Linked DNA regions of Homo sapiens: regions 1, 2, 4, 5 and 6 are each linked to region 3. Evidence: fine-mapped expression QTL. A gene starts in region 3. Each other region holds a variant in brackets. All regions are shown on one strand. Distances are from middle to middle. Region 1 overlaps RELT (RELT TNF receptor). Region 2 overlaps FAM168A (family with sequence similarity 168 member A). Region 3 holds the start of RELT (RELT TNF receptor). Region 4 overlaps FAM168A (family with sequence similarity 168 member A). Region 5 overlaps FAM168A (family with sequence similarity 168 member A). Region 6 overlaps FAM168A (family with sequence similarity 168 member A).

Region 1 (5,074 bases), 21 kb before region 3:
CTGGAGTGCAGTGGCGCAATCTCAGCTCACTGCAACCTCCACCTCCTGGGCTCAAGTGATCCTCCCACCTTAGCCTCCTGAGTAGCTGGGACTACAGGCGCACACCACCACTCCCAGCTAATTTTTGTATTTTTTTGTAGAGGCGGGCTTTCACCATGTTGCCCAAGCTGGTCTTGAACTCTTGGGCTCAAGCGATCTGCCTGCTTCAGCCTCCCAAAGTGCTGGGATTACAAGTGTGAGCCACTGAACCCAGCGCCCTGAGCTTTCTTAAAAGATGGATTTGTCAGATGGGAAACCAAGGGGCACTTGGTGGTTTGTGGTTACAGAAAAAGGACAGCTGAGGGAGGCTCTGGCGCCTTCATCCAAAGCAGTCCCATCAAGTGCTATCAGTTTTGCCTCCTAAACATCATCTGAATCTCTTATCTCCCCTCTGGGTGAAGCCACTGCCCTAGCCCAGGCCCAGGCTTCTCTTACTGGGTTATCTGTCCACCATTCCTTCCCAGGGCCGGGCCCCTACAGTTCATGCTCCACATCCCCATAGCTATACCTCCAAGAACTCAGCCTCCTCACCTGGAAAGGAAACAGGCCAAAAGAGGCCAAGTAGCTTGGCTCACACTGCAGCTGAAATGAAAACTTTTAGGCCTCCTTACTCTCTAATGCCTCTCACCAAATCTCACCGTGTGCCTCCACCCAGCCTCCCTTCCTGTCCTTGATCCAATATGAAACCCACCCCCAGTGTCCGAGGGGGCACCTCTGGCCACAGGCATTGTTGGGGCTGAGTCACCATAGTCAGTTTCTCCGGTGCAGGAAGGGATTTTCTCCCAGAGGGAGGCTCAGCTCCAGGTCACAGTGGCAGAGCTGAGGGCCAGGAGCAGGAGGGGAGGTGGAGACTTGGGTCCCAGCCCCTACCATTCTGGCCCATAGGGAAGAGGGGTGGAGCACAGAGGTCAAGCTCAGAACTCTTCCCCTCAGTGGTCAGCCCAGAACCCCACCCTGTCCTCCAGCTCCCACCTCCGCGTGGGCCTCTTGAACTCAAGCGCTGACAAAGCTTCAGGGATTTAGATGGAACAAGCCAGAAAAGCTTCCAGGTGAGGGTAAGGACCCTGAAGACCAAGGGCATCAGACACACTCCTACTTGAGCCCTCAGCTCTTCATCCCACTCTTGCAAGCTAGCCTCAATACCCCAAGGGACAGGTGAAGAAACAGGCCAGGGCCACACCTTTCAGCAAGCAGAAATTGGGGAGGGGGAGTCTGGAGGAGAGCACAGTGCTTACTGTGAGGGGGCGCTCAGCCCTGGCCTGGAAGCCTGCACCCAGCCTTGGTGCACCCTGGCTTGCATGTGTATGTACCTCTGCCCAGGCGAGACAGGCAGGCTGTGGAGAGGGCATCTAGACCCCACAGCCCAGCCTTCCCCTGGGGAAGGAGGCTGAGGGCCAGTCAAGGTGGAGAGGCCAGACCCTGAGATGCAGCTGAGCAGCTGGCAAATAGGGACTCCAAACACACTCTGGCAGCCGCAGGAAATACTTATTTGGGTACACTGGTGATGCCTGCTAGTCCCCTACAATGGACACCCTGTCCTACACTTTGGCATCCTTTTCTGCTCCAGAACATCCCTCCTGATGTCCAGCCTCTGTTTCCTTCCCCTCTTCTGGTGCAGGTGAAACATCTCCTGGATCTTCAGAGGTGTCCCTCCCCTTCCTGCCCACCTGAAAAGCCCTGGAGAGAGACACCTGTGCCCTAGGTACCCAAGGAGAGTCAAATCCCAAAGCACATCTGCCCAGGGTAGGAGGAGGCCCCCAGCTTGGCTTCTGCTCAGGAGAAAGGCCCCTGCCCCCTGTGAAGCCAGGCCTCCCGACAGCCCCAGCATGGCCGCCCCATAGCTGCCCTGTGCCTGCTGCAGACAGGCCGGGGACTCCCACAGGCTGGTCCTCTCCACACCTCCCCAGGTTCCATCAGGTGTCACTCTTGTTCTTCAGCCTCTCTCTGAGGCCGTTAGTTTAAATGTGTCCCTCTCTCCCGTCTTTAGACAACATAACAAACAATAAAACCCTAAATTAACTGAAAATTGTCTCTCCCCAGAGCCTGAGGCCCCACCCAGCTATGGCCTGCCAGGCTTCGGCAGGGAGCTGTCTCCCTCAATCCACCTGGCCCTGGCCCTGGTCTCCCCTCTCCCTTTAGGCGAATCCCACCAAGTTCCTGTGCCACTCACCAGGGCACAGAGCAGTCCTCCTCACCCCCCAGCAGCACCTGGCCTTGCAGCCCACCCTGCGCCCACCCCTCCCCTGGCTGCCAGGACACTGCCACGGACGTTGCCCTCCCTGGTTTCTTTCCTGCCTCCCTAGCAGTGCCTTCTCTGTGGTGCCCTGGAGCAGCCCAGGCATCGTCCCCAGGACATTTCCTCCCAGCCCAGTCCTGGCCTAAACACCCACCTGAGTGCCTGTAGGTCTTCTTGTCTCCAGGTCTGTCTCCTGAGAGCTCTGGGCCTTCACATCTGGATGGCATGGGACATCCTCCATGGCTGTGTCACAGGTGCCCCCAGGACTGCTCCTGTTGCCCCA[C/T]CCAGCTGGCCCTAAGCCCCCGACCCATTTCCCATTACCAAACCCTAGCACAGGGGTGTCCAATCTTTTGGTTTCTCTGGGCCACATTGGAAGAATTTTCTTGGGCCGCATATTAACACTAACAATAGCTGAAGAACTAAAAAGAAAAGAAAAAAGCAAAAACATCTCAATGTTTTAAGAAAGTTTATGAATTTGTGTTAGGCCCCATTCAAAGCCATATCCTGGGCCACATGCGGCCCTTGGGCCGGGTTGGAAGCTTGCCCTAGGAATTTTAGATGGAGACGCTCTGTCTTGCCGGGTGTAGCACCCGCTCCTGTGGCTCCTTTCCTCTCCACACTGGCCAAGCAGGAGCTGAATGCTTTGGAGGCTCCCTGGGCATAAGGCCCAGGTGACCACTATGTGTTGGTGCTCAGCCTTTGCACATGCTGTCCCTCTCTGTGGAACACATTCCCTGGCCCGCACATCTTCCTCACCCCCAATTACCTCCCGGGCTCCACACAGTGCATTTCCTCAGGTGCTGCGCTGACCAGTGTGGTAGCTGCTGGCCACGTGGCTATGGAGCCCTTGAAATATTTGAGTTCCAATCAAGATGTGTAAGATACACTCCAGATTTCAAAGCAAAAGCAAAAACAGCTCATTCACACTTTTTATACTGATTTTATATTGAAATGAAAATATTTTGGATAGACTGGGTTAAAAAAAAATTAAGTTCACCTGCTTCTTTTTACTTTTTGAAATGTGACTGTCAGAAAATTTAAAGTCACATATGTGGCTCACACTATTTCTGTGGGACAGCCCTGCCTCTAGCTAGGGGCTTTGGTGAGAACCAGATGAGTTGATGGGTCTCCTCTGGGCCCTGCTTCCCTGGCTGCTGAGGTGCAGGAACTGTGAGGGGAGGGCAGCCTGTCACGGTGCCCAACACAGGGCAGGGCTGGACAGGTACAAGTGGAACAGGCGGATAAGCTGGGAAGGGCACAGAGAAAAGGAGCTCCTCGTGACAGCACTTTCCCACCTTTTATTATTCAACACATGGAAGGGGGTGGAGACACAAGGATAGGGCAATGGTGAGTTTCAATAAATAAGAGAAACAGGATGGACAGGCAGTGGGCCCATGCCTGCACGGCCCCACATAAATAACCAGGTTGCTGAGCCAGAGTGGAAGTCAGGGCTGGGCCTGGCAGCCGCCTGCACTGCCCAGAAGCACTGGCACCACAGGGACACAGAAACCACTGAGGCCCAAGGTGTGCTCCAGCCCCACCAAGTCTTCTCCCTAAAGCTCCTGAGATCTTGGGGCTGGCTGGGCAGGCTAGGGCTCTGTATCACAGTCCTGCCGGGATCAAGTCTATTTTTTCAGTTTCATTAAAAACAGCTGGGGGAGGGGCAGGCACATGCATTAAGCCCCTTCCGTAGGCAGAGCCATGGATGGACAGCCCCATGGGGGCCTTGAAGGCAGAGGCCCTGGAAGCAGCAAAAACGGGGCTGGATAAAGCTACTAATGGGAGGGATGGTAGAGCCCAGCTCCCCAGTCCCCCACAACCCAGCCCAGAACCTACAAAGAGCTGAAGAGGCCCTGGGTACTGAGACGTCTCTCCTTACTTCACAGTCAGAAAAATGGACCCAGCGATGGCCACAGATGTGCCCAAGATTAGAACCCAGGGACTCACTCTCCTAGCCCAGGACTTTCTGCTACCCCTTCCCTTTATAGACCTGCTGGAAGAGGAGGGGGACGCACATCTGCTCTAGGGCCCTGTACAGAGGCAAGGGTGTGGCTAATTACCAAGGAATGGGGCCAGGGGTGACGGGCACAGGCCCCTCCCCTCTGCCAAGCCCAGCCTCTGATGATACAGAGAATCCCGTGGGCTCCTAGGATCCAGCCAGGGCAGGCACGGGGGTCGGGGCATCCTTCAGGGGAGCAACATGGCAGCAGGGCCAGGGGCGGGGCTCAGCCTGCTCCTGTACACAGTGCCCGCCGGCCACCTGCCTCCTCACTGGGGCAGACGCTCCCACCTCCAGGCCTTGGTCTTTGCTGTCTCGTCTGCTGGGCCATTGCTTCTCGGTCCTCACAGTCCCAGCTGCAGCTCCACCTCCTCCAGGAAGCCTTCGGAACCTCCCAGGGCAGGGCCGCAGTGTCCTTAGACTAGACCGCCCCTCAGATGACCAGGTTGCTCTCACTTAGCCGGACCACATAGCGGTTCTCCTGGTGGGCAGGGGTGAGGGGTCAGAGCTGAGTCAGGGGCTGGCTTCTGGCTCCAGGAAAGTGGCCCCTGCCTAGGGCCCGCTGCACTTCCACCCCTGCCCCGTCTTCGGTCAGGGTTGGCCCAGGTGCCAACAGATGCCTTTCTCCTTGACTCTCACCTCGGCCTTGTTCTCTGCTGGGGGCTTCAGCCACTTTGTACGGCTTCCGCCACTTCCTAGCAGGGCCTGCTGCTCAGGGGGGAGGCCAGGCTGTGGGGAGTCAGGGAGATCACCCCACGAGGGCCCAGCCTCCGTGATGGTCTTCACCTCAGACACCATTG
Region 2 (5,074 bases), 170 kb before region 3:
CCCAAGATTATATTTTAAAAGTTAAAGAGCTTTACTGAGATATAATTCATATGCCACACAATTCACTCATTTAAATTGTATAGTTGAGTGGTTTTTAGTATATATAGAGTTGCATAATCATTACCACAGTCAGTTTTAGAATATTTTCGTTACCTATTGGAAACTTGTACCCTTTAGCAATCACCCTCTGTTGTCCCCTTCTCCACCAGCCCTAGGCAATCACTAACCTATTCAGGATATTTCATATAAATGGAATAATATAATATGTGGCCTTTATAGCTAGCTTTTTTCATTTAGCTTAATATTTTCAAGGTTCGGCTGGGTGTGGTGGCTCACGTCTGTAATTCCAGCACTTTGGGAGGCCTAGATGGGTGGATCTCTTGAGGTCAGGAGTTAGAGACCAGCCTGGCCAACATGGTGAAACCCCATCTCTTCTAAAAATACAAAAATTAGCTGGATGTGGTGGTGCATGTCTATAGTCTTAGCTACTCAGGAGGCTGAGGCAAGAGAATTGCTTGAACCCAAAAGGTGGAGGTTGTAGTGAGCCAAGATTGTGGCGCTGCACTCCAGCCTGGGTGACAGAGGGAGACTGTCTCCAAAAAATATATATATATTATATATACTATATATATAGTATATTATATATACTATATATAAAATATATTATATAATATATATTATATATAATATATTATATATTACATAATATATTTTATATTATATATAATATATATTATATAATATATTTTATATTTTATATATAATATATATAATTATATATTATATATTATATATTTAATATATATTATATATAATAAATTTATTATATATGATATATAATTACATATATAAAATATATAATTATATATAATTATATATAATTACATATAAAATATATAATTATATATAATTACATATAAAATATATAATTATATATAATTACATATAAAATATATAATTATATATAATTATATATAATATATGTAATTGTATATATTTTTTCAAGGTTCATTCATGTTGTTACATGTATCAGTACTTCATTCCTTTTTATTGCTAAATATTTCATCATATGTATATGCCACCTTTTATTTGTTTATCAGTTGATGGACATTTGGATAGTTCCCACTTTTAGCTATTATTTGTAATGTAGCTGTGAACATTAGCATATAAGTTTTTATGTGGACATAGGTTTCTTATTTCTCTTGGGTATACATCTAGGAGTAGAGTTGTTAGAGCATGTGGTAACTCTATGTTTAACCCTTTTGAGGACTTGTTTTCCACAGTGGCTGTACCACTTCACATTCATTCCTACCAACAGTGTATGAAGGTTCCATTTTCTTCTCCACATCCTTGTAATCACTTGTTATTTGTCTTTTTTCTTTTAGCCAACCTACTCAATGTGAAATGGTATATCATTTTGGTTTGATGTGCGTTTCCCTGGTGGCTAATGATGCTGAACATCTTTCATTAGCTCATTGCTCACCTTGTTACTATTTTTTTTCTTTTTTAAGAGACTGAATCTTGCTTTGTCACTCAGGCTGAATTGCAGTGGTGGGATCATAGCTCACTGCAGCCTCAAACTCCTGGGCTCAAGTGATCCTCCTGCCTCAGCCTCCCAACTAGCTAGGACTACAGGCATGTGCCACCATACCCAGCTAATTTTGTTTATTTTTTGTAGAGGTAGAGTCTTGCTATGTTGCCCAGGCTGGTCTCTTAATTCCTGGGCTTGAGCAGATCTTCCTGCCTTGGCTTCCCAAAGTGCTGGGATTATAGATGTGAGCCACTTTATGTATCTCTTTGTGCTTTACTACCTAGCTTGGTGATATCCTTCTTTATTAAGATGGTACTCTGCACCCAAAAGAGCTTATTAATACTGATTTGTTAGTTGATTATAAGAGAGTCCCAGAGGAAATAAATATAGCTTAATCTTATTATTTTTCCTTCTTTTGGTTACTTCTATCAGGTTAAATTGAAAGTACTCAGTTAGCATATCTAGAAAATGGCCATTTTCAAAGAATATTCAGTCTGTTTAGAGGAAGACCCGATTGAAGACTTAAGATATAGTTAAAGAACAATTAATGGGCCGAG[C/T]GCGGTAGCTCATGCCTGTAATCCCAGCACTTTGGGAGACCGAGGTGGGTGGATCACCTGAAGTCGGGAGTTTGAGACTAGCCTGGCCAACATGGCGAAACCCCGTGTCTATTAAAAATAGAAAAATTAGCTGGGCATGGTGGCGGGTGCCTGTAATCCCAGCTAGTTGGGAGGCTGAGGCAGAATTGCTTGAACCTGGGAGGCGGAGGTTGCAGTGAGCTGAGATTGTGCCACTGCACTCCAGCCTGGGCAACAGAGCAAGACTCCATCAAAAAAAAAAAAAAAAAAAAAGAACAATTAATGGCTGAAGTTGATTACTAGTATTGATTATACTTACAATATGATCTTAGCTCCGGGGATACAGCAGTGAATAAAATAAAGTCCGTGCTTTCAATTGTGTCCTAGTAATAGAAAAAAACAGGCAGTGTATGGGAAAAGGGTGTGATTGAAAGGGTAGGAGCTATTTTAGATATAATCAGTTAACTTAGGCCTTGCTGATGAGGTGAAATTTGAGTAGAGATCTTAATGAAATAAAGGAGCAAGTCATATTGATAATTTGAGGGAAGAATTCTTTAGGCAGAGAGAACTGTAAGTACTAACTCCTTGAAGTGAGAATGTACTTGGTTTTTCAAAGAATAACGAGAAGAGGAGAATTTTCCCGTTGTTCAGCTTAAGCGATCCAAGGCTTGCATATTCTTCTTGGTGTCTGTGCTTTTGGCCCCCTCAGAATGGTTTCTAAACAACACAAATGTTGATGCTAAAATTTAATTTTACTGTAGTATGGAGCAAGGAGGAGAGTGCTATGGGGTAAGATTAGATAAAGGGAGCTAGATTACCTGGTAAGTCATGGTAATGACCTTGTATTTTACTCTGAGATGATAACTCATTGCAGGGTTTTCAACAGAGTGGAGTTACATGCTCCAAACTTTATTTAAAAGGATCATTTTGGCTTCTGGGAAGAGAGAGACAGGATAAGCAGATGGCAAGGATAGAAGCAGGGGCTGTTACAATAGTTAAAAACAATAATGAAGACTTGAGTCAGTGTAGTAATGGCAAGAAATGGTTAGAATCAGCATGTGTTTTGAAAGTAGAACTGACAGAATTTGCTGATAGATTAGATGAGGATTATGAAAGTAAGAAAGTAGTCAAAGGAGATTCGGAGGTTTTTGCCTTGAGCAACTACAAGATTAGAATTGCCACTTATAGAGTTGGGAAACAGTGGGAGGAGCAGGTTTGCAGGAAGGAGTTAGACATTTGGTTTTGGACATATTACATTTTTACAATGGTTATTAGATAACCAAAAGATCTCAGGCAGTTGGATATACAAGTCTGAAATTCAGAGAAGTTCAAGTTGGAGATAATAAATTTGGGAGTAATTAGCATATATAAAGCCATGGAGTAGATGTGCTCACCTAGGAAATGTGTGTACTTAGAGCAAAGAAGAGATCGGACTGCCAAACTCTGGACACTCTAACATAGAGAAGTTGAAAAGATCAAGGGAGTAGCCAGTGAGGTAGAGGAAGAACCTAGAGAAAGTGGAGTACCAGAGATCAGGTAATCTGTGTTGGGTAATGCCAAGCAAGTCTCCTAGTGTGATCATCTGAAGTCCTAGAGTCTAATTATGGTTTGGTTTTAAATAACTGGGACATTGGATAGTTCACTTTACCTTTTAGGGCCTTGGGGTGATCTCTAAAGTGAAGGGCTTAAGTAGATTGTCTCTAAACTTTCTCCTATCATCATCATAAACATCATAAACATTCTATAATACTTTATAGTTTACACAAAGCATTTTCATAAGTTTATCTCATTTAATCATCATAACAAATCTATGGGACCTAGATATTTATACCTGTTTTACAGATGAGGAGATTAAAGAAGTTTAGGAGCCGGGTGCGGTGGCTCACGCCTGTAATCCCAGCACTTTGGGAGGCTGAGGTGGGCGGATCACAAGTCAGGAGATCGAGACCATCTTGGCTAATGTGGTGAAACCCTGTCTGTACTAAAAATACAAAAATTAGCCGGGTGTGGTGGCAGGCGCCTGTAGTCCCAGCTGCTCGGGAGGCTGAGGCAGGAGAATGGTGTGAACCCGGGAGGAGGAGCTTGCAGTGAGCCAAGATCATGCCACTGCACTCCAGCCTGGATGACAGAGTGAGACTCTGTCTCAAAGAAAAAAAAAAAAAAGAAGTTTAGGCACTTGTCTAAAGTTACACTATCATAATCAGTGAGAAAGTTGAATGCAGTTCTGCCTGATCTCAAAGCCTGTGGTCTTTCTATTATATAGCAACTACCTTTTTACACTAATATTATAGAGCTCTGTGATTGTGAGCTTATTTATTTATTTATTTATTTGAGATGGAATCTCACTCTGTCACCCAGGCTGGAGTGCGGTAATGCATTCTTGGCTCACTGCAACCTCCACCTCGCAGGTTCAGGTGCTTCTCCTGTCTCAGCCTCCCGAGTAGCTGGGACTACAGGCACGCACCACTACACCCAGCTAATTTTCGTATTTTTAGTAGAGAGGGAGTTTCAGCATGTTGGACAGGCTGGTGTTGAACTTCTGGCCTCAGGTGATTCTCCTGCCTTGTCCTCCCAAAGTGCTAGGATTACTGGCACGAGCCACCGTACCCGGACTAATTTAATTATTTATTCAATGAATATTTGATGAGCACCTGCTCTAGTGGTCACTGCTCAAAGTGCTGGAGATACAGTTGTAACCAAGACAAAGTTCCTGCCCTCATAAGTCTTTCATTCTAGTGGGGGAAACTGACAGTAAACAAACATGTTAATAAAGAATATAATGTAAGGGCCATAATAAAAAATAAAGCAAGATAAGGAAACACCATATGTTGGGATGATGATCAAGAAAAGCCTCTCTGAAGAGATTGCATTTGAGCAGAGTCCTGAATGATTTTAAGTAGTAAGCCATGAGAAGATATAATAGAAGGGAGTTCAGCAGAGGAAACAGCAAGTAGAAAGATCCAGAGGT
Region 3 (5,074 bases):
CTGCTACCCCTAGGCTGTGCTGCTAACTCCATACACTCTTCAAAGCCATGGGGACACCCCCAAAGCCAGGTCCAGGCTCTAGAAGGCAGGGGACAGGACTTTCTGGTGATGTCTGGTTGGGAGTGAAGTCTGGGGAGGAACAGGAAGACCATGTAACCCACCCATCCCCAGTGTTCCAGACATGTGTGCACACACACACATCATACTTAGAACTCACAATGTAATGCCCTGGCTAGGCCACGCCTACTAGCCCAAGTTTGAGAGACAGAAGTCCAGGAAAGCCATGAGCAGTTATTAGGAAGGTGGGTGATCCTCTCTCCCAGCATCTCACTGGTCTCTGGGGTCAGAAGACCTGAATTCCAGTCCTGGCACTGTCCTGACTCTGTATGACCTTGGCCAAGTCACTTTGCTTCTCTGATCCTCAGTTCCTTTCTCTGAAACACAGTCACTACATCTCAGAATCACTGCGAAGATTCAACAAGACAGAACACCATGAAGTGTTCAGAACAGTGCCTGACACTGTCCCCCACCCTGTCCCCCACCCCTAGAATGTAATCAGCATTTTCAGAGGACGACAGCAGAAGACAGAACTTCCAGATTCTACAGCAAGTGCCACCCTCTCCTAGACTAGGGAGCTCAGCTTCCACCCCACCCTGCATGAACCCCACAGACCTTCATACGGGAGAAGGGGCCTCAGAAGGGTCTTGCCCAGATGGCGAAAGGGTACCGCTCCAGCTCTCCAGCAAGAACTTAGCCTCCCAGACCAGAGACCACTCCTGGGGAACAAGTCTCTCCCCACTCTCCCCCAACCCAAGGAACTGAAGAAAGGACACCCAGGCAGAGAAGTGAATGTCTATGGATTTGGGGATCCATATTGTCTATGGATCCATTTCGTGACAGAGGACCAGGAAGCCTTTGGGTGGGAGGCTAACGTTTCCTTGACCAGTTTTGGAGAAGGCTGTGCTTCCAACCCTATCAGTAGCCCCTGAGTGCAGCCCCTGGGCCGCTGTGTCCCCAGGAGAAGCCTGCCCCCACCCCCCACTGCAGTCTTTCTGCCTGAAGGGAAGGGAGAACACAGGCAGTTGACCCAAAACAATAGAGGATCCCAAAGTGATGATTCACAGTCCATTCAAAGCCCAGCACCTCAGTGTGCAGATGGGGAGACTGAGGCCTGCGCGGGGGAGGGGGGCGGGGGGGTCTGAGAACAAGATTGTGTCCGGGTCCGCTGAGAATACAGATTACACAGGGGCAGAACTTTGCCAGGTGTAGGGACTTCGATGCGTGAGTGTGTGGATGCAGGTGGGCGGGGGGAAGCTGAGACTACCACAGGGCCCCTACCCTGCTGCCATCTGGGCCACCCCACCAGATGTTGCCCAGCCTCGGCTTTCTCCCTCAGCCAGGGCCTATCCCTCAGGGTCCATCTCCTCACCAAGCTGAACTCCTGAGGGGTGCCCTCGTGGGGACAGTCCTGGAGACCCTTGTCTCCTGGCTCCCCAACTTCCTCATCGCCCCACATCTGCCGGAAGGTGTCCTAGGTCCGGTCCCTCCTCCTCCTGCCTCTTACTCATCATCACCCTAGGCGCAGACACACACACACACACACACACACTGACACCACTTGACCCCACACGCACACCATGGCGCCAGCGAGCTCGGCTCGTTCTCAGTCACTTGGGCTCCTCTCCCTCTATTTCACACTCACAGTAACGGGTGGCCCTGGCCCTGCGCCGGTCACGCCCCAAGCCACGCACTTCGTGACCCCAGTGACCCCGGGTCTTTCCCTCACACAACACACGCACACACGCTGCCTGTCTCCCACACACAGAGCCCCTCTGTGTCGCCCGCTCGGCCCGGCGTCACCGCCCAGTGTCCCAGCCACACGTTCGCCCGGCCAGGCCGCCTCACGCGCCGTGTCACCCACAGTCACGGGCTGACACCATCCAGACCCCCCCTTGGCCGCCCCGCGCCGCAGCCGCGCCGAGGCGCCGCCGTCCAGCCCGCACCACAACCTGGTCTCGGTCCAAGTTTCCCGGGCCGGGGACCGCTCCGGGCCCCGCCGGCCCCTCACACCGCAAGTTCCGCTGCTTCCCCGCGCGCCCCCCGACAGCCACCACGCAGGGCCGGCCCGGAGTCGCGGCCGGAGGACCTGCAGGTCACGGGGCTCGGAGACTGGCGGTGGCCGGTGCGCGGAAGGCGCCGGGACAGGACGCGAGGCGGGAGGAGTGGGGTGGGGGGGCGCGCGGCCGGGCTGCCGCATCCGCCGAGCCCGCGAACTTCCTCAGAGACACGGGGAGGCAGGGGGCGCCACTAGGGTCCGTATCCCGCTGGCCCGGCCGCGGAGAGCAGACTCTGGATGGGCGCTCCGCGCGCCCTCCTTACCTGGCTGCGCCGCGGCAGCTCCAGCTCGGCTCCCCGTTCGACTCGGCGCCGCGGCCCGGCTCGGCGAGCGCCCGGACAGCCGCGCAGCCTGCGCGCCTTTTGAATGAATCGCCGGCTGGGCCGGGAAGGTGCGCAGACCCGCCCCCGCGCGTCACGGCCGCTCCGCCCCCGACGTCAGAGCGCGGTCTGCGCCCCGCGCCCGACTCACCCCGAGCCGCGGAGGGGCTCGCCGCTCTGCCGCTGGGCGGTGCTGCTCTACGTCGCCCTCTCTCGCGCCCCTGGGAACTGCAGGGGGCTGCGCGGGACTGGGCGGCGGTGCCCAGAGGGCCTCTTGTATCCGCCTCTTCAAGGCTCTGAACCAAGCAAGGAGTTGTGCGAAGCAAGATAAAGAGACTGGAGACTGAGATACTCCTCTGGGTCCTCTCAGCATTGCCAGTGTAACTAGAGCCACCTCTGCCCCTTTCTGGGCTTCATCTTCCTCCTGCCAGTTGGTGGCCAGGAAGAATAACCTCACTTTGCTTTGTTGACGAGGCCCAGGCCCAACCCTGGAAACCCTCACCTAGTTGGCGAAAAGGCCTGGTGAAGGTGAGTCTATAAAGGAAGCCCACACGGTGGGCTTCGGCACATCCTTCAAGGCCTAGTGAAATCCTCCAGGAGGCGTCTCCTGCCTCCACTCCCCTACTCCCCGCACCACTTCTCTGTGCCAGGGTAGTTAGTTTCCCTCCAGCAGGACAGGTGACTCAGTGCCCCCCTCCCTACTACAGCCATCCCACCCTGCCAGTTTCCAATGCCAGTCATCACAAACTCCAGGCAGTATTCACACTGTATTCCGACTCCGAATCGTGTCCCCTGGAGTTGTGCTACAGGGTGTGCCAGGACTGGAGGGAGCAGCTCAGTGGCCCGTTCCCCCTCTCAGTACTATTCAGGGGATCTCAGGCGGTCCTCCTGGGACAGTAGGGCTGATGGGAGACTGAGACACCAGGGAGGACCTAGTGCTGGGCCAGAGGCCTGGCTGGGGTCAGGATAATCACAGCCCATGACAGAGATGGAGAAAGGAAGGTAAATAAGTCAGCTGGGGATAGATGGCTGGGGGTGGGGTTCTAAACAGTCATAGAATCTGAACCCAGGGGCTAGGAGACGGAAAAGGTCAGGTCCCCAGGGTCCAGGAGATTCCAGGAGGCGAACTGGACACCGCATGGGGAGGGGAGCAGGGGATGAGTTTTCATTTCCCTGGGTCATGCTCAGGTTGTGGGGGAAGGGCATAAGGAGCTACAGGTCATTGATGTCAGGATCATGACATCAGCACCCTCATATGTCAATGGAGACCTCCAGGGCTGGGGCAGGGGTTCTTCCAGGGTCCCACATCCCAGCCTACGGAAGGCCAGAGCATCCAGAATGCCTCCACTCCTGGAAATGTTTTCTTTGTAAGGGGACCATCTACACCCCAGCTCTAGGTTCTAGAGTTCAAATGGTGGCAATTTCAGGTGTCGTCACTCAATAAACCAAATGGGGAAGGCCAGGTGTAGTGGTCACACCTGTAATCCTAGCACCTTGGGAGGCTGAGTTGGGAGGATCACTTAGCCCAGGAGTTCGAGACCAGCCTGGGCAACATGATGAAGCCCAGTCTCTACAAAAATATGTGGGAGAATCACTTGAGCCCAGGAAGTTGAGACTGCAGTGAGCCGCGATCGTGCCACTGCACTCCAGCCTAGGTGAGAGAGTGAGACCTTGTCTCAATCAATAAACTAAATGGGGAAATGCTTTTTGGAGCACTGGCTATTAATCAGACATCCCAGAGAGGGTCCAGGCCCCTCTCTACCACCAGCTCTCTGTGAGGTTTTCATCAAATCCACCCCCAACTCAGTTTCCTCATCTGAAAACTGGGGTGCCAGACATGTTGCCTGAAGTTCTCTGTGGGAGGCGGCTACCTGGCTGCCCTGGCAGCAGCTCCATAGAGTAGGTCTCCTGGGGCCACAGCCCAAACACTTCTCGCTCCTGCAACCCCCAGGTTAGGAGGGAGCCTAATTATTATTTACTGCTGGGTGGATGCGCCAGCTCCTCCTGCAGCCAGCTCTGACCCTGAAACCACTGTGACGTGGGCTCCTCCCTGAGAGTCTACCAGCATCTGGGTTGCTCCACAGTGAGTAGACAGGGAAGGAGTTGTGGAAGCCACAGGAAAGATTTAGACTCGCTTTTTATGGAGCTTGGGGAACCACAGGCTTGAGAACAAAGGACTCTCAGAATCACAGGCTTTATAAAATCCTGGCATCTCAACTGAACCCATGGAGTCAGCACTGGAATCCCTGAGCTCAGGGACCTCAGAGACCATCTTGTTGAACTTCACATGGTACAGCTGGGCAAGTGGGCCCAGAGAATGTGTGCACCTCATTGTAGGTACACAGCACAAGGTCCCAGTAAACTGGGACGAGCTGTGATGGGGACCTGGAGGCAGGGGTACAGGTGCCATGCCCCAGCCAGGCCCTGCCTGGGGTGGGGATCCTGGGTCACAGAATCAGAGCCACCACAGTGTGGCTGTATGCAGGGGTCTGAGTAGATGACTGCCTTGGAGTCATGGACCAAAGGTAGTGGGTGCCACTCTGCTTGCTGGCTGTGCTAGAATTCCAAAAGGAAGTACATACAGTACAAGCCTGGAGGAACAGCAGGCTCATACTTAAATTTCAATGCTCCAGGCCAG
Region 4 (5,074 bases), 38 kb before region 3:
ATACTTGCTAAGCCTGTTTGTAATTAGGTCTCCTGCTGATTCATCACTGTCTCACTTGGCTACCAACAAGGAGTCTTAGGGGTCAAAGCAAGATTCAGACATAGAGCTTTATTTTGTCCAGACATATAAATCTGATGATCAATAAACCAATTAGTCTAAAAGGCATCCGTGATGCAAGGATCAAGCCTTTGAAGGTGGTAGGGCTTCTACAACTGAAAAAGATTTATGACAGTGAAAAAGGATTGCAGAAAGCGCTGAAAAGGTTTTATCTTGTTAATGTACATACTCTTTTTATTATCCCATTTGATTCTAAAATTATGGTTAGGAACCTAAGAGAAAGAATAGGACATCATAAACAAAGCCTCTTTTATAAGGCAGAGCTGGGACTTCGAGTGATCTAATTCATTTTTTCTTTCATGATATTGCCTTTAGTGAAATGGGGACAACAAAGGCCAGTATATTAAATGCCCAAGATTGGACTACAGAGACTTTAACTCAGCAAGAGCTCTGCCTAGGGCAGGGTGAGCCCTGAACTTTGGGCCTAGCTGTGTACTGATGTGCTGTACAATTTGGGGAAAATCTGTCCTTCTGGGCTCCAGGTTCTTTCTCGGAAAAGGAGGAGGTTGAATATAAACCTCTAATGTCCTTCAGGCACAACATTCCAAAGTCTTAATTCTGTGACCTTCAGACTTAGAATTCCTTTCAGGATAGCCAGGCCTCCAGTGAGTGAACTGAGTCTAAGTTCATTTGGGCAAAATCTGTGAGACTTTTTTGCAACAAGCCCAACAGCTTCTTTTACTTAGATGCATAAAGTAATAAACCCTGATTTTTGTGTCACCCAAGCTCAGGCTATAGCTCCAGGGGAATTTTCAGTGTTCCTCAAGAGTATTGACAGGACCACTAGTAAATTATGGAAAGTCCTCTGAAATGATTTCCTCATGAAAGTCTTCTGAAATACTCAGAGACCTAGAATGTCAGCACTAGAGAAGTTCTCTGATACTGTCTAGTCCAAATGAGGATATTCCCTGAGAGGAATTGACCTGACTTACTGACAGAACCTAGGATGAGGGCCCCCAGGCAGTTTCTCCAGCCTCATGAAGATCCTCCTGACAAATGGTAACCTTGAGAACCACTGTGGTTAGAGGAAGTAGCACTGAGTCTTAGATCCCCACAAACAGCTCTCTCTTTCAGCAACTACTCATTATCTCATCTGTGAAATGTTTACGTTGGTCTTAATGATCTCTGAGTCTTCTAGCTCTGCAGTTCTGCTTCTATCTCAGACTGTCTGGACAAACAAGCAAGGCCTTCTTCTGCAGCATCATCTCTTTGGCTGCCAAGGGTGTTTTGGCTACTGATTTGTATTCTGAGTATGTGTGTGTCTCATTTCATAACATGAAGAAAGGGAAACATTCTCAGACAAGGTTATTCTTAGATGTGGGAACCAAATTCTACTGCAGTCTCTTGGAGCTTTTTGATTTTCCTCAGAGGGATAGTCTCACCACTTTGTAATATGGCTGTCCTTGTGGCATACAGTGGGTAATCCAGCTTCCCCAGGGAAGAGAAAAATTCCAGAGCACATTCTCCAGGAGCATAAAGGAAAGTCATCAGCATCTTTGGCCTGTTAACTTTAAAGAATCATAAAATCATGGCATTTTAAGCCATAACATTTTAGAATCTTAGAATCCTGGAGTCTGTGTTCCAAGCTGGGACAGACCATAGTAGTCATAGATTAGCTTTAGTCTCTCAGACCAGGCTCTGCCTGCATACCCTTAGGACAGAAGCTTACTGTCCCTATAAAGTGAGAGAGAAAATAATAATAGCTGATCTTTATAAAGTGCTTCTAATATGTCAGGTACTGTTCTAAGTGCTTTTTACTTAACAGTTAATGTATTTATCACAATGAAGTAGGTACCATTACTGTTCCCATATCACACGCGAGACTGATGTATCCTATAGCTATTAAGTCTCAGAGCTGGGGGTTTGGACCCAGGCAGTCAGTCTGTCTCCAGACTGCTCATAACCATGGCTCTGTGCTACAGAGCTTTCAGAAACAGGCACCTTCTGATTCAGGGGTGTCCTACTCTCCTGCATAGAAAAGGGATGCTTTCAGCTCTGCTAGGTTTCTCTACACCTTGATATATTCCTTTAAATTAGGGGTCAGCAAACATTCCTGTAAAGGGCCAAATATTTAGGCTTTTAAAAAGGCCATATGCTCTCTGTCAGTGACTACCATTGTAGCAGGAAAGTAGCCTTAGTCAATATGTAAATGAATGGATGTGGATGTGTTACAATATAACTTTGTTTACCAAAACTAGCTTCAATTACAAAAAACATGGCTGAAATTTAATTGTTTTAAATGTTTATAGTATGAATAAAAGATTCTGTGGTAAAATTAATTTGGAAAATACAGTCTTGTACATACTCCCATCTTAGAGATTCACAGTTCACCTCCCCACCTTCTTTAAGAGACAGGGTCCTGCTCTGTCACCCAGGCTGAAGTACAGTGTTGTGATCATGGCTCACAACAGCCTTAGACTCCTGGGCTCAAGCCATCCTCATGCCTCAGCCTCCCAAGTAGCTGGGGACTACACCAGCCACCATGCCTGGCTAAGTTTTTTTCTTTTTTTAGAGATGTAGTCTGTCTGTGTTACCCAGGCTGGTGTTAAACTCCTGGTCTCAAGTGCTTCTCCTGCCTTGGCCTCCCAAAGTGCTGGGATTATAGGTGAGAGCCATCACATCCAGCCCA[T/C]CCTATTGTTTTAAAAACTTCTCAGGGTCATGGAATAAAAACAAAATCTTAACTGTTTATCTCTATTTTACATATGGGACTATAGAACTCTTTTGTTTCCTTTTCTTTGGCAAAAACAACTATTAAGATCCCTTGGGATCTATAGTACGTTGTCCACATTTGGGAAATGTCTATCTCTGGTTTATCTATAAAACCCCTTTATTTTATAGATAAGTAAATTGTGTCTCCGTACACATCAGATGGTTCCTTCTAGACATCTGCAAAGCTAGTCTCCCTGTCTTCCCCCACAGTATCTGCTTCTCCTCCTATGACCACATTTCATCATTAGCTCCATAATCTAGAAACTTTGAGAAATCTGCTCTAGACTTCTCACTCAGCTCATAGTTGCACTTCCAGTTAGTTTCTACTTCTCTTTAACATGCTTCCCTCTCTTTCATATGTACTTTCCATTCTATCCTCATTGTTACTTATTTCCCAAGCATATTTGATCACAAAACTATGGAAAAAACTATGGATCTGCAGGTGAAAAAATAAATGACGTGAATCCAGGAACAGGCTGACTTTTGTGGCAGCTGTGCAGCAGCTCTCCTATCCTCCTGAGTCATCAGGGGCAGGGGGGTGCTAAGCCAAAGAGGTGTGATGTGGACTGAGAAAGATTTGTGACCATGTGGTAGTTTGCTTTTACTTGGGGTTAAGGTAGAAGAGACCCAGGATCTTTAGAACCATGGAATTTTTGTTTAGGAAGAGATCTTCATTCTTAGCCACCTGATTTTACAAAATAAGAAACTAAGGCCCAAAGACTTGACAATTGTCATGAAAAATTAGGGGGAAAGCCAGGACTGAAGACTAGATGTCTTCTCTTCCAATAAAGCACTCCCTCCACTCTGCCCCTAGTCCCTTATTATATGATAGAAACAGCACCTCGGAGCTGAAAGGGTCCTTGGTGAGCATCTTATAGGTGAAAGAGCTGAAGCCCAGAGAGGTTCAGTGAGGTCTGCTAGACTTACCCAAGATGGAACCACAGGAAAGAAGCCACCTCAGCACCTCCCCAGCAGGGCTTCAAAGCCTAGGTCCTCAGGCACTGTCCCTTCAACTTAGAAGAGTTTAGAGTCTTTAGGAGAAGTTATTAAAAAGACTTGCCTTTTCTGAGCCCAGGATCCCCTTGTGTAAAGTCCAAGGATTGGAGTCCCTTGATGATCACTTGGGTTCCGTAGAACGATTCCATTTTGTGATTCTAAAAGGAGACAGTGTTGTTCCTGAATGACTCATGTTTCAAGTTTTTTTCTGTGAACAAAGGATCTGTCACTCTTTTCCGGAGGATTAAAAGGCAGCACAGTTTATTTACATGGGCAATTGTGAGCTTCTTGGGGCCTGACTTCTCAGCCCCATTCTTAGCTCCAGCTTTTGTCCATCCTGCTGAGGGACAGACATGGCCCAGGTTCCAGGTTGATGTGAATCTTTGTGATCCCTGACTTCAGGTATTTTCAGGCAGAGGTGGCCTTCCCCTAGAGCCCAGGAGAGAAGGAGGAGCCAACTCTGCAGAGCAAAGTTTTTCAGCATCCTAGAAGATGACGATCTCTGAATGGTGTTTTGTATGGTCAGCATCCCAGAAGATGAGGGTCTCCGAATGGTGTTTTGTATGGTCAGCATCCCAGAAGATGAGGGTCTCCGAATGGTGTTTTGTATGGGGTTTTCACCTTCAAACTTGGTGGGGAGGGGAGGGAACATGATGGAGGGAAGTCCAAGAAGAGAGTGAGAGAGAGAGAGATAAGGAGAAAAAGAAATAGAGCAAAAGAGAGAAAGACAGAAACAGCAGCAAAAAGATACCCTGGATTCTGTGTGAGAAGACAGAAAAGCAAGTAGAGTAGCAATAAAGAGCAAGTGAGTTGAGGGTTTCCATCTCTGTGCACCTGCCCATTTCACACAGACAGCTCCAAATCCCAGGCTGTCAGAGCTAAAAGGGACCATGTGGTTCTAGCCTCTTATTTTATAGATGAGAGCCCTGAGACCCAGAGAAAGAAAAGATGCCCAGAATCATCCATGCAGCCCTGTGCACCAGGACTGAGGGAGCTGCCTCTGGGGCCAGGGCTTTCTGGGTGGAGCCCTGTTCTCTGTTTGTTCTCATCTCTGTTTCCAGCCTGGATTCAGCCCATCTTTGTCTGGGGAGTCGTGACTGGGACCTGCTGCCTTCTAGCAATGCTTTTCTGCCAACTAACTGGAAGTCTCTCTTATTGCCTTGGTACAGGATATACTGCGGGGACACCATACAAGGTCCCACCGACCCAGAGTAACACTGCTCCACCCCCCTACTCCCCATCACCCAACCCC
Region 5 (5,074 bases), 180 kb before region 3:
AGGTTGTAGACCAAGGTCTGAGTCAAATGATACTGTTTATAAGGACCTGCTAGATAATTTGCATATATTATATAATCCCCAAAAGAACCTTTCAGCGTAAGTGTTACTATCCTCATTTATGATGAGGGTCAGAGAGATGAAGAGAGGTCATACAGCTGTAAATATTCCCCTGTAGGCTGGGTGCGGTGGCTCACGCCTGTAATTCCAGCACTTTGGGAGGCCAGGGCAGGCGGATCACGAAGTCAGGAGTTTGAGACCAGCCTGACCAACATGGTGAAACCCTATCTCTACTATAAATACAAACATTAGCTGGACGTGGTGGCGTGCGCCTGTAATCCCAGCTACTCAGGAGGCTGAGGCAGGAGAATTGCTTGAACCTGGGAGGTGGAGGTTGCAGTGAGCTGAGATTGCACCATTGCACTCCAGCCTGGGCTACAGAGTGAGACTCAGTCTTTGGAAAAAAAAAAAGAAAATCCTCCTGTAATGTTTTAAACCACAGTCCTAAGATTGCAGAATTGAAATTCAAGATCAAGAATCGTATGGGATAAAAGGGTATTAAAATTATCTAAAAATTTATTTTTATTGTCCAAAGTGACTAAAGTGTCACTTTTACCCCTTAGTTGATACAGATATAAAAGTAAAAGTTATTTCAGTAAAAGAAGGGAGGCCTCATAAAGATCTTGGTTTGTGAATTAAAAAACAAAAAAGTGAATGACTCTACTTATATGATCAGATGCTTAAAAAAAGAGTGAATGGCTATGCCATTTCTAGTTCTCTATGGAATAATTTTAATGTACTTATTAGGGACAGAGTAGCATTTACCACGTTTGTGTGGTCTTTGTATTTATTCCACAAGGGATTGAGAGTAGTTTACAAAAGTAATCTAATAAAATAACCTAAAAAAGAAAAACCCTGAGTACTATTGAAAATAGAATAATATATATATATATATGTCTCCCCAGTTGCTATAGGTGAACTACAAATTTACCCCTGAATTTCTTGGAAGCCTAGGAGAGAAGGATAACTTTTTTTATTTTGAGATGGAGTTTCACTTTTGTTGCCCAGGCTGGAGTGCAATGGTGCGTGATCTCGGCTCACTGCAACCTCCACCTCCCAGGTTGAAGCGATTCTCCTGCCTCAGCCTCCTGAGTAGCTGGGATTACAGGCACATGCCACCACGCCTGGCAAATTTTTTGTATTTTTAGTAGAAACGGATTTCTCCACGTTGGTCAGGCTGATCTCGAACTCCCGACCTCAGGTGATCCGCCTGCCTCAGCCTCCCAAAGTGCTGGGATTACAGGCATGAGCCACCGCCACCGCGCCCGGTCTTTTTGTTTTTTGTTTTTTTTTTTTGGGACAGAGTCTTGCTCTGTCACCCAGGCTGGAGTGCAGTGGCGCAATCTTGGCTCACTGCAACCTCTGCCTCCCAGGTTCAAGCAGTTCTCCCAGCCTCGGCCTCCTGAGTAGCTGCAACTACAGGTGTGTGCCACCATGCCTGGCTAATTTTTGTATTTTTAGTCGAGACATTTTCACCAGGTTGGCCAGGCTGGTCTTGAACTCCTGGTCTCAGGCTATGTGCCCGCCTTGGCCTCCCAAAGTGCTGGGATTACAAGTGTGAGCAGCGATGCCTGGCTGCATGTTTAGTTTTATAAGAAACTGCCAAATTATTTTCCAGAGTGTCTGTACCATTTTACATTCCTACCAGAAATGTATGAGAAGTCCAGTTTCTTTGCATACTTGTCGGCATTTAGTATTATCACTGTTTAAATTTAGCTGTTTTAATAGGTATGTAGTACCTCTTTCAGTTTTTCTGAGTGAGTACATTTGTTTTTAGCACATGGCAGGTTGATAGCCTTAGTCAGGTTTAGCTTTCAGATTTGCCATGTTTGTACCCACTGCATTTAAGTTTTTATTTCTTAATGTACTTTACATTCTGAAGGCTTACAAAGCTATTGAAAACTTTTCTCAGTATTTTTTTTCTTAGTTTTTTCATGTCTCCTGATCCCAGCAACAGGT[A/G]TCTTCACACACCTTAGCAAAAGTACCTTCATTGGAGACTGGGCATGGTTGCTCATGCCTATAATTCCAGCACTTTGGGAGGCTGAGGTGGGAGGAATGCTTGAAGCCATAATTTCAAGACCACTTGGGCAACATAGTGAGACCCCATCTCTTTAAAAAAAAAAAGCCAGGCATGGTCATGGTGGCACATGTCTATAGTCTCAGCTCCTCAGGAGGCTGAGCTGGGAGGATCGCTTGAGTCCGAGGGGTCGAGGCTGCAGTGAGCCATGTTCATGCCACTGCACTCCAGCCTGGGAGACAGAGTGAGACTCTGTCTCAGAAAACAACAACAAGAAAAAAACCTTCATTGGCCTTTTCTTAAGTGAGACTAATTCTGTGGATATAACTGCTTGGATTTATTTAATGCTGCAGTAGTGGTACTGAGGATTTTGTTTACATTGTTCTCATTTGTGGCAACTCCTCAGTGCTGTTTTTTTTCCTGCCAAGAATCAAGCAATGCTTGATTACAACTTGGCAATGGGAAGAAGAAAGATAACAAAACAATTTTTGGGAAGTTTGTGTGAAGGGAGGATTCTCATTATTGACTGAGGGATTGAGGTGAAATTTATATATCATTGTTGAAATTAACCACTTTAAAGTGAACAATTTAGTGGCATTTAATACACTCCCAGTGTTGTGCAACAACCATCTCTGTCTAGTTCCAAAACATTGATCACCCTAAAAAGAAGTTCTGTATCCACTAAACAGTCATTCCCATTCCTATTCCCTCCTAGCCCCTGGCGGCAACTAATCTGCTTTTCATCTCTATGGATTTACCAATTGTAAATATTTTATATAAAAGAAATCATATAATGTGTGGCCTTTTGCATCTGGCTTCTTTCACTCAGAATAATGTTTTTGATGTTCATGCTGTAGCATGTATCAGTACTTCATTACTTTTTTTTTTTGAGACAGTTTCACTCTTGTCGCTCAGGCTGGAGTGCAGTGGTATGATCTTGGGTCACTGCCAGTGTTGCCCAGGCTCGATGCAGTGGCGCGATCTCGGCTCACTGCATCCTCCGCCTCCTGGATTCAAGCGATTCTCCTGCCTCAGCCTCCCGAGTAACTGGGATTACAGGTGACTGCCACCATGACCAGCTAATTTTGTATTTTTAGTAGAGACAGGGTTTCATCATGTTGGCCAGGCCGGTCTCGAACTCCTGACCTCAGGTGATCCACCTGCCTCGGCGTCCCAAAGTGATAGGATTACGGGCATAAGCCAACACGCCCGGCTAGTACTTCATTACTTTTTAAAGCTTTTTATGGCTGAGTAATATTACATTGTATAGATATGCTACAGTTTGTCCACTGATGGACGTTTGAGTTGTTTCTATCTTTCGCTATTGTGAAGGTGCTGCTATGAACATGTGGGTAGATGTATTTATTTTAGTACCTGTTTTAGTTCAGTGTATACCTAGGAATGGAATTGCTGGGTCATATGGTAATTCTATGTTTAACTAGCAGAGGAGCTGCCAGACTTTTCCATAATGGCTGCACCATTTTAACATTCCCACCAACAATGTTTGAGGGTTCATATTTTTTAACATCCTTGCTTATACTTATTTCCTTCTTCTTTTTTAAAAAATAAATAGCTATTGTAATGAGTATGGCATAATATATCTTATGGTTTTGACTTGTATTTCTCTAATGATTAATAAATGATGTTAAGCATCTTTTCATCTACTTGTTGGCCATTTGTATACCTTTAGAGAAATACCTATTCATGTCCTTTGCCCATTAAAATTTTTTTTTTTTTTGCCTTTTTGTTGTTGAATTATAAAAGTTCCTTATATAGTCCGGATTCCAGACCTTTATCAAATATATGATTTCCAAATATTTTTTCTTATTCAGTGGGTTGTCTTTCCACTTTTTTTTTTTTTTTTTTTTTTTAGAGACAGGGTCTTGCTCTGTTGCCCAGGTTGGAGTACAGTGGCATGATCATAGTTCACCGCAGCCTTGAATTCCTGGGCTCAAGTGATCCTCCAGTCTCAGACTCCTAAGTAGCTAGGACTACAGATGTGCACCACCATGCTTGGGTAATTTTTCTTTTTTACATTTTTTGTAGAGGCAGTGTCTTGCTATTTGCCCAAGCTGATGTTGAATTCCTACCTTGGCCCTTCTAAAGTGCTGGGATTGCAGGTGTAAGCTGTCACATTTGGCCTCTTCACTTTTTTGATAATATCGTTTGATGCACAAAAATTTTAAATTTTGATGAAGTCCAGTTTATTTTTTCTTTGATTGCTTACTTTGTTGTCATAGTTCAGAATCCATTGCCAAATCCAAGGTCATGAAGATTTATCATGGTTGTATCCCTTATATTTAGGTCTTTAATTTTGAATTAAGTTTTATATGTGGTTTGAGGTAGGGGTCCAGCTTCATTCTTCTGCCTGTAGATATTCAGTTGTCCAAGCACCATTTGTTGAAGAAACTTTTCTTTTCTCATTGATTAGTGATTAGTCTTGGCATGTTGGTTGAAAATTAATTGGCCAGAGATGTATGGATTTATTTCTAGACTTGTGATTCTGTTCCATTGGTCTATATACCTGTCCTTATGCGAGTACCATGCTGTATCGATTACCATAGTTTTATAGTGAATTTTGAAATTGGAAAGTGTGAGTCTTCCAACTTTGTTGTTCTTTTTCAAGATTATTTTTGCTGTTTGTGGCCTCTTGCAATTCCATGTGAATATGAGGACTGGCTCTTCCAGTTCTACAAAAAGAGGTTTTTGGACTTTTGATAAGATCTGTAGATTGCTTTGGAGGTGACATCTTAACAATATTAAAATTTCCAATTCATGAATACAGGATTTTTAAATTAATAACTTAATTTTGGCCAGAGATGGTGGCTCATGCCTATAATCCCAGCACTTTGGGAGGCCAAGGCAGGAGGATCGCTTGAGCTCAGGAGTTCAAGACCAGCCTAGGCAACATAGTAAGACCCCATCCCTGCTAAAAATTAAAAAAAAAAAACTTAGCCAGGAGTGGTGGCACTATTGTCTTAAACAGTAACTCTCATTTCT
Region 6 (5,074 bases), 220 kb before region 3:
TCTAAAGATTGAATTTTCTTCCAAAGGAATTCAGGTGATCAGAATTCTGTCAGATGTGAATAAATAAAGCATATTGAGTCATTTTTATTTTATTTTTTGGGGAATGATGTTGATGTAGTCGCATTGTATTAACTACAGAAACAGCATCTCCACCTATTCATCAGAAATTCGATTTAAACCTTAGCGATATGCTCATTCTTAGGGCAGAACGATGATAATGGAAGGTACACAGGAGTGCAAATGGAGGGAACATCTTTAGAGAAACAGTTCTATGGACCTAATTGCATTAACTGTGATAATATGTTAAACATAAAGTGGCTGTTGATTAGAGCTCAGACTGAAAAAAAATGAGGAGGGATGTAAAGAAGATAAAATTGGCACCATTGGGATCGAAATAATTCTTTTTATTTTTGTTCAAGCTTCAGAATTTAGCTCGCAAACAAACCATTTTCCTTGGCTTTCACGATTGAGCATATAAAAATACCATTTAGAATCTTTTTTTTTTAGCTCCAAAATGGGCAGAATGATGGAACGTTGGACTTATCCTTTGAATTGAAAGTGTTTTGTAATGAGGAAGCTTTCTGTATTATAATAAAGATCAGGTTTGAGCAGTTACCTGTAATTCAGTGAGACTGTAATCTAATGTGAGCATTTCTCTCATAACTTTACTCTGAGGTCTAGACGTTGTTTTTGCAGATCTGCAGGCTTGGTCTAGAGGTGGGATGTTTATATTAAAGCCCTAGCTTTTGAAAGCCCAAAATGAAAAGTGCCTGGGAGAAATGTGTTGGTGGATTTTTTTTTTCCACAGCCGTGGTTACCTGTGTAGTAGTAATGTGTTTTTGTATCTTTACCTCATTTGATCCTCCCGATATCTTGGTGAGAAGAGAGCAGATGGAGGTATTGATAGACAGAAGCCTTTGTGGAACGAATAGCCCATGAGTTTAGGAGTTGAGTCCCAGATTCAAATCCCAGTTCTACTACTTGAAAGCTGAGTGATTTCAGTCAAGTCATTAAAAACCTTTCAGATGGCCAGGCGTGGTGGCTCACGCCAGTAGTCCCAGCACTTTGGGAGGCCGAGGTGGGTGGATCACTTGAGGTCAGGAGTTTGAGATCAGCCTGGCCAACATGGCAAAACCCCATCTCTACTACAAATACAAAAATTAGCTGGTAGCACGTGCCTGTAATCCCAGCTACTTGGGAGGCTGAGGCAGGAGAATTGCTAGAACTGGGGAGGTGGGCAGTGAGCCACGATTGCGCCATTGCACTCCAGCATAGGCAACAAGAGCGAAACTCTGTCTCAAAACAAACAAACAAAAAACAAACAAAAAACCTTTCATATTTAGTGGTAATGGCTGCAAAACATTGTGAACATAGTTAATACCACTGAATTGTACACTTAACTTTGGTTAAAAAGGTAAAAATACACACACAAAAAAACCTCAAAAACCAAAAAAACTGGCCAGGCATAGTGGCTCACGCCCATAATCCCAGACTTTGGGAGGCTGAGCTGGGAGTATTGCTTGAGCCTAGGAGTTCGAGACCAGTGAGGGCAACATAGGGAGACCCGTCTCCACAAAAAAAAAAAAAAATTTGCTGGGTGTGGTAGCGTATACCTGTAATCCCAGATACTCAGGAGGGAGGTGGGAGGATTGCTTGAGCCAGGGAGGTCAAGGCTGCAGTGAGCCATGATCGTGCTTCCCTGCACTGCAGTCTGGGTTACAGAATGAGACCCTGTCACACAATCAAACTTTCATACTTCACAAGGCTGTCAAGGGGAACAAACCAGTTCATGTCCTGAAAACACTGTACATATATGAAATATCTGTTCACTATTTATTTATTTAATGAATGTCTGCTAAGTGCCAGGGGAAATAAAAATGAACAGAAAGCAGTTGTCAAGGAGCTTTCAGTGTCATGGGAAAGATAGACAAATACGGTGAGAAAAGTGAGGCAAAATGAATGCTATGGTTAAATGTGGGTTTTGAAGTCTGTCTACCACTTACTATTAGCTGTGTGACGTTGGGCACAATGGGCTCATCTGTAAAGTGCGAATAATAGAATTAACATCATAGGATTGTTTTGAGGATTAAATAAGATAATCAATGGAAAGCATTTCACACAATATGTTTTATAGTACACATTAAAAAAATTAGTTGTTGCCTTTATTGTTAGAAAGATAGGCAGAGGCTAGAATGGTGAATAGCCTTGTGTGCCCTACCAATGAGTTCTTAGTATTGTGGTATTTATTAATGAGGTATG[A/G]TTTTGTTTTATGATCTCATGCATATTTGCATGTTTACAGTCTAGGAACTTTAAACAGTTCTTTAAATGCCAAAGTCCTAAACAGATGTTAGCTGTTAGCTTCCTCATTAATAAAATAAGAAGAAAAATTATGCTCTGAGAGGTTAAATGACTTGTTTAAGGTTACACAGTCAGTGGAAAAGTCTGGGTTACAGCCCCCAAATTCTAATTTGTCATCCCCATTTATATCCTTTTTTTAAATTGTAAAATATGTCATATGTATAAAAGTATATTTAACATAAACCCACAACTTAAAGAATAACAAATTGAAGGCTTTTCTACTTGCTACCCAGCTTAACAAAAAGGAGATTTCTAGTACCTTTAAAGCCTCTTGTGAGGTCCTACTTGATTGAATCTCCCATCTTCTCTCTCCCTCAGAGATAAACAGTTTCCTAAATTTTATGTGAATCATTTCTTTGCTTTTCTTTATACTTTTACCAAATATGTGCATATCCCTAAACAGTATATTTTTTACCTTTGCAACTTTTTATAAATAGAATTATAGGATAAATATTCTTCTGACTTGCTTTATTCTTATTCTTATTTTTTAACTTTTAAAAAAGCTTTATTTCTTCCACCATTAAATAATGTGTGCTCATGATAAAAACTAGAAATTACAAAAAGTAAAAAGAAGCATAAGTATTGTTTTTAGTCCTATTACCCAGTAACACTTTTTTTTTTTTTTGGTAGAGACAGGGTCTCGCTATGTTGTCCTGGTCAAGTGATCCTCCTTCCTCGGCCTCCCAAAGTGCTTACAAATGCAGGCATGTGGCACCATGCCTGGCTGGCAAATGCTTTTTGTAGAAAATATTTTGTGCCACATATGGCCTCTGTTGTTCTTTCTCCTCCCTTCCACTCCCCTTCCTTTTTGTCTCCCCATCTCCCTCCCCGTTCTTCTCCTTCCTGAAGCCCCTCCTCTTGCTTCTCCCCATTCCTTCTTCTCCCTCCCCTTCTCTTTCTCCTCCTTTTATGTGGTTTTAAGAATGTAAAACTCACAGGCCATACAAAAATAGGCCATGGGCGGGCCATAGCTGGCCGACCCCTGGTACGTTAACAGAAATCAACTCAAAGTTGTAAAATATTGAAGAGGAAAGAGACTAAACCAAGTTCATATTTCTTTCTCTATTTTGTTAAATTTACTTCCTTGGACAGTTATGCATATCTTTAGTATTGAAAACAATGGTATAGAATTTTTTTGTCAAATTATGTTTATCTAAAAGTTTAACATTTTATTAAATGAGCCATTATTTTCTGTATGAAGACACTCTGAGAAAACCTCAGTTTATAAAGTTCCAATACACCTCCTCCTCCTGCCAGTTAGGCAGGTGTCTGGGTCCTTTCAGAATATGCCTATTTTATGATGATATAGGTTGTGCTTTTTCTTAGATATAGACATTTTGAAGGAACCCTGAGATGATATATTTTTCACAGTAAACTTCAATCCTTGGCTACTTGAGATTATGATCTTGATTTGCCTTCTGATCATGTCGCTCAAGCTTGACGATTTCTGCTAACTTGTATTTCTTTTCTAGCCTCTGTTTTATAATTTTTCTAAGTATTTTAGTTTTCTAATGTGTCTTCCTCTATCTTTTATTTTGAGTTGATAGCAAATGTCTCTATCAGTAGATAACAGCTATGCTATTTATACTTATGCAAATATAATGGCGCCATTTTATATATAGTTCTTAGGTTGGTCATGTGGCATTATTTTCATTTTAAGGATGAAGAAATTAAGACTCTAAGAGGGTAGCTGGGTGCAGTGGCTCACACCTGTAATCCCAGGATTTTGGGAGGCCAAGGTGGGAAGATCGCTTGAGCCCAGGAGTTCAAGACCAATCTGATCAACATAGTGAGATCCAGTCTCTACAAAAAACAAAAATATTATCTGGATGTGGTGGCGTGCACCTCTGTTCATAGCTATTTTGGAGGCTGAGGTGGGAGGATCACTTGAGCCCAGGAATTTGAGGCTACAGTGAGCTATGATCATACCTCTGCTCTCTAGCTTGGGCAAGACTATATCTCAATAAATAAATGAATAAAAAGATTCAAGAGGGTAATTTGTCTTAGGCCATAAGACAAGTAGGGAATTAGCAGGGAAAGACAAAAGGTACCTAACATTTGAGTGTCTATGGCAGGCAGTATGCTGGGTGCTTTCTTTTCCTTATAGATAGAATTTAATCCTCATATTTGTGTCGTATAAGGAATTGTGATCATTTTACAGAAGAAGAAACTGAAGCAACTGAGGCATATAGTGATTAACTAGTTTGCATTTGTTTACATAGCTAGTAAGAGAAGAAAAGCTCGTATTTAAAAACCTGATCTGCCTTGCTCCAGAGCCATTGTTCTTTTTGTTGTACTGCATATAAATCTTCCTGGTTTTAAGCTGTTAAATCAGTAGTCTTCTTTTTTTTTTTGAGACAGAGTCTCGCTTTGTCTCCCGGCCTGGAGTACAGTGGCACGATCTCTGCTCACTGCAAACTCTTCCTCCCAGGTTCAAGTGATTCTTCTACCTTAGCCTCTTGAGTAGCTAGGACCACAGGCCCGTGCCACCATGCCCGGCTAATTGTTTGTATTTTTGGTAGAGATGGGATTTCACCATGTTGGCCAGGCTGGTCTTGAACCCCTGACCTCAGATGATCTGCCTGCCTCGGCCTCCCAAAGTGCTGGGATTACAGGCGTGAGCCTGCACCCAGCCTAATCAGTAGTCTTCAACCTATTTAGACAGGTAGTATCTGGCTACTCTTTAGAATCACCCGAGGAGCTGTTTAAAAAAAAA

Evidence for each region.
Region 1: its variant is fine-mapped to the expression of RELT in whole blood (INTERVAL, PIP 0.96).
Region 2: its variant is fine-mapped to the expression of RELT in whole blood (TOPMed, PIP above 0.99).
Region 4: its variant is fine-mapped to the expression of RELT in whole blood (INTERVAL, PIP above 0.99).
Region 5: its variant is fine-mapped to the expression of RELT in whole blood (TOPMed, PIP above 0.99).
Region 6: its variant is fine-mapped to the expression of RELT in whole blood (TOPMed, PIP above 0.99).

Annotation. Positions count from the first base shown.
Region 1 is chr11:73,395,125-73,400,198 of GRCh38, reverse strand. RELT (RELT TNF receptor) reads right to left here. Exons shown (of 11, transcript NM_152222.2): 10 at 4,914-5,074; 11 at 2,725-4,755. The coding sequence ends at 4,708. Among named protein-coding and RNA genes, the nearest start is that of RELT, 21 kb to the right of the region's middle. The variant C/T (reference allele first, on the strand shown) is at 2,559.
Region 2 is chr11:73,540,568-73,545,641 of GRCh38, reverse strand. The region is part of intron 1 of FAM168A (family with sequence similarity 168 member A); the gene reads left to right. Among named protein-coding and RNA genes, the nearest start is that of FAM168A, 55 kb to the left of the region's middle. The variant C/T (reference allele first, on the strand shown) is at 2,089.
Region 3 is chr11:73,373,805-73,378,878 of GRCh38, reverse strand. It overlaps RELT (RELT TNF receptor), which reads right to left and starts at 2,480. Exons shown (of 11, transcript NM_152222.2): 1 at 2,380-2,480. RefSeq lists an enhancer at 1,501-1,795 and silencers at 1,961-2,040, 2,131-2,420, 2,451-2,760.
Region 4 is chr11:73,411,454-73,416,527 of GRCh38, reverse strand. It overlaps FAM168A (family with sequence similarity 168 member A), which reads left to right. Exons shown (of 8, transcript NM_015159.3): 5 at 4,992-5,074. Among named protein-coding and RNA genes, the nearest start is that of RELT, 38 kb to the right of the region's middle. The variant T/C (reference allele first, on the strand shown) is at 2,747.
Region 5 is chr11:73,557,341-73,562,414 of GRCh38, reverse strand. All of the region lies in intron 1 of FAM168A (family with sequence similarity 168 member A), which reads left to right. Among named protein-coding and RNA genes, the nearest start is that of FAM168A, 38 kb to the left of the region's middle. The variant A/G (reference allele first, on the strand shown) is at 2,017.
Region 6 is chr11:73,590,782-73,595,855 of GRCh38, reverse strand. All of the region lies in intron 1 of FAM168A (family with sequence similarity 168 member A), which reads left to right. Among named protein-coding and RNA genes, the nearest start is that of FAM168A, 4.8 kb to the left of the region's middle. The variant A/G (reference allele first, on the strand shown) is at 2,260.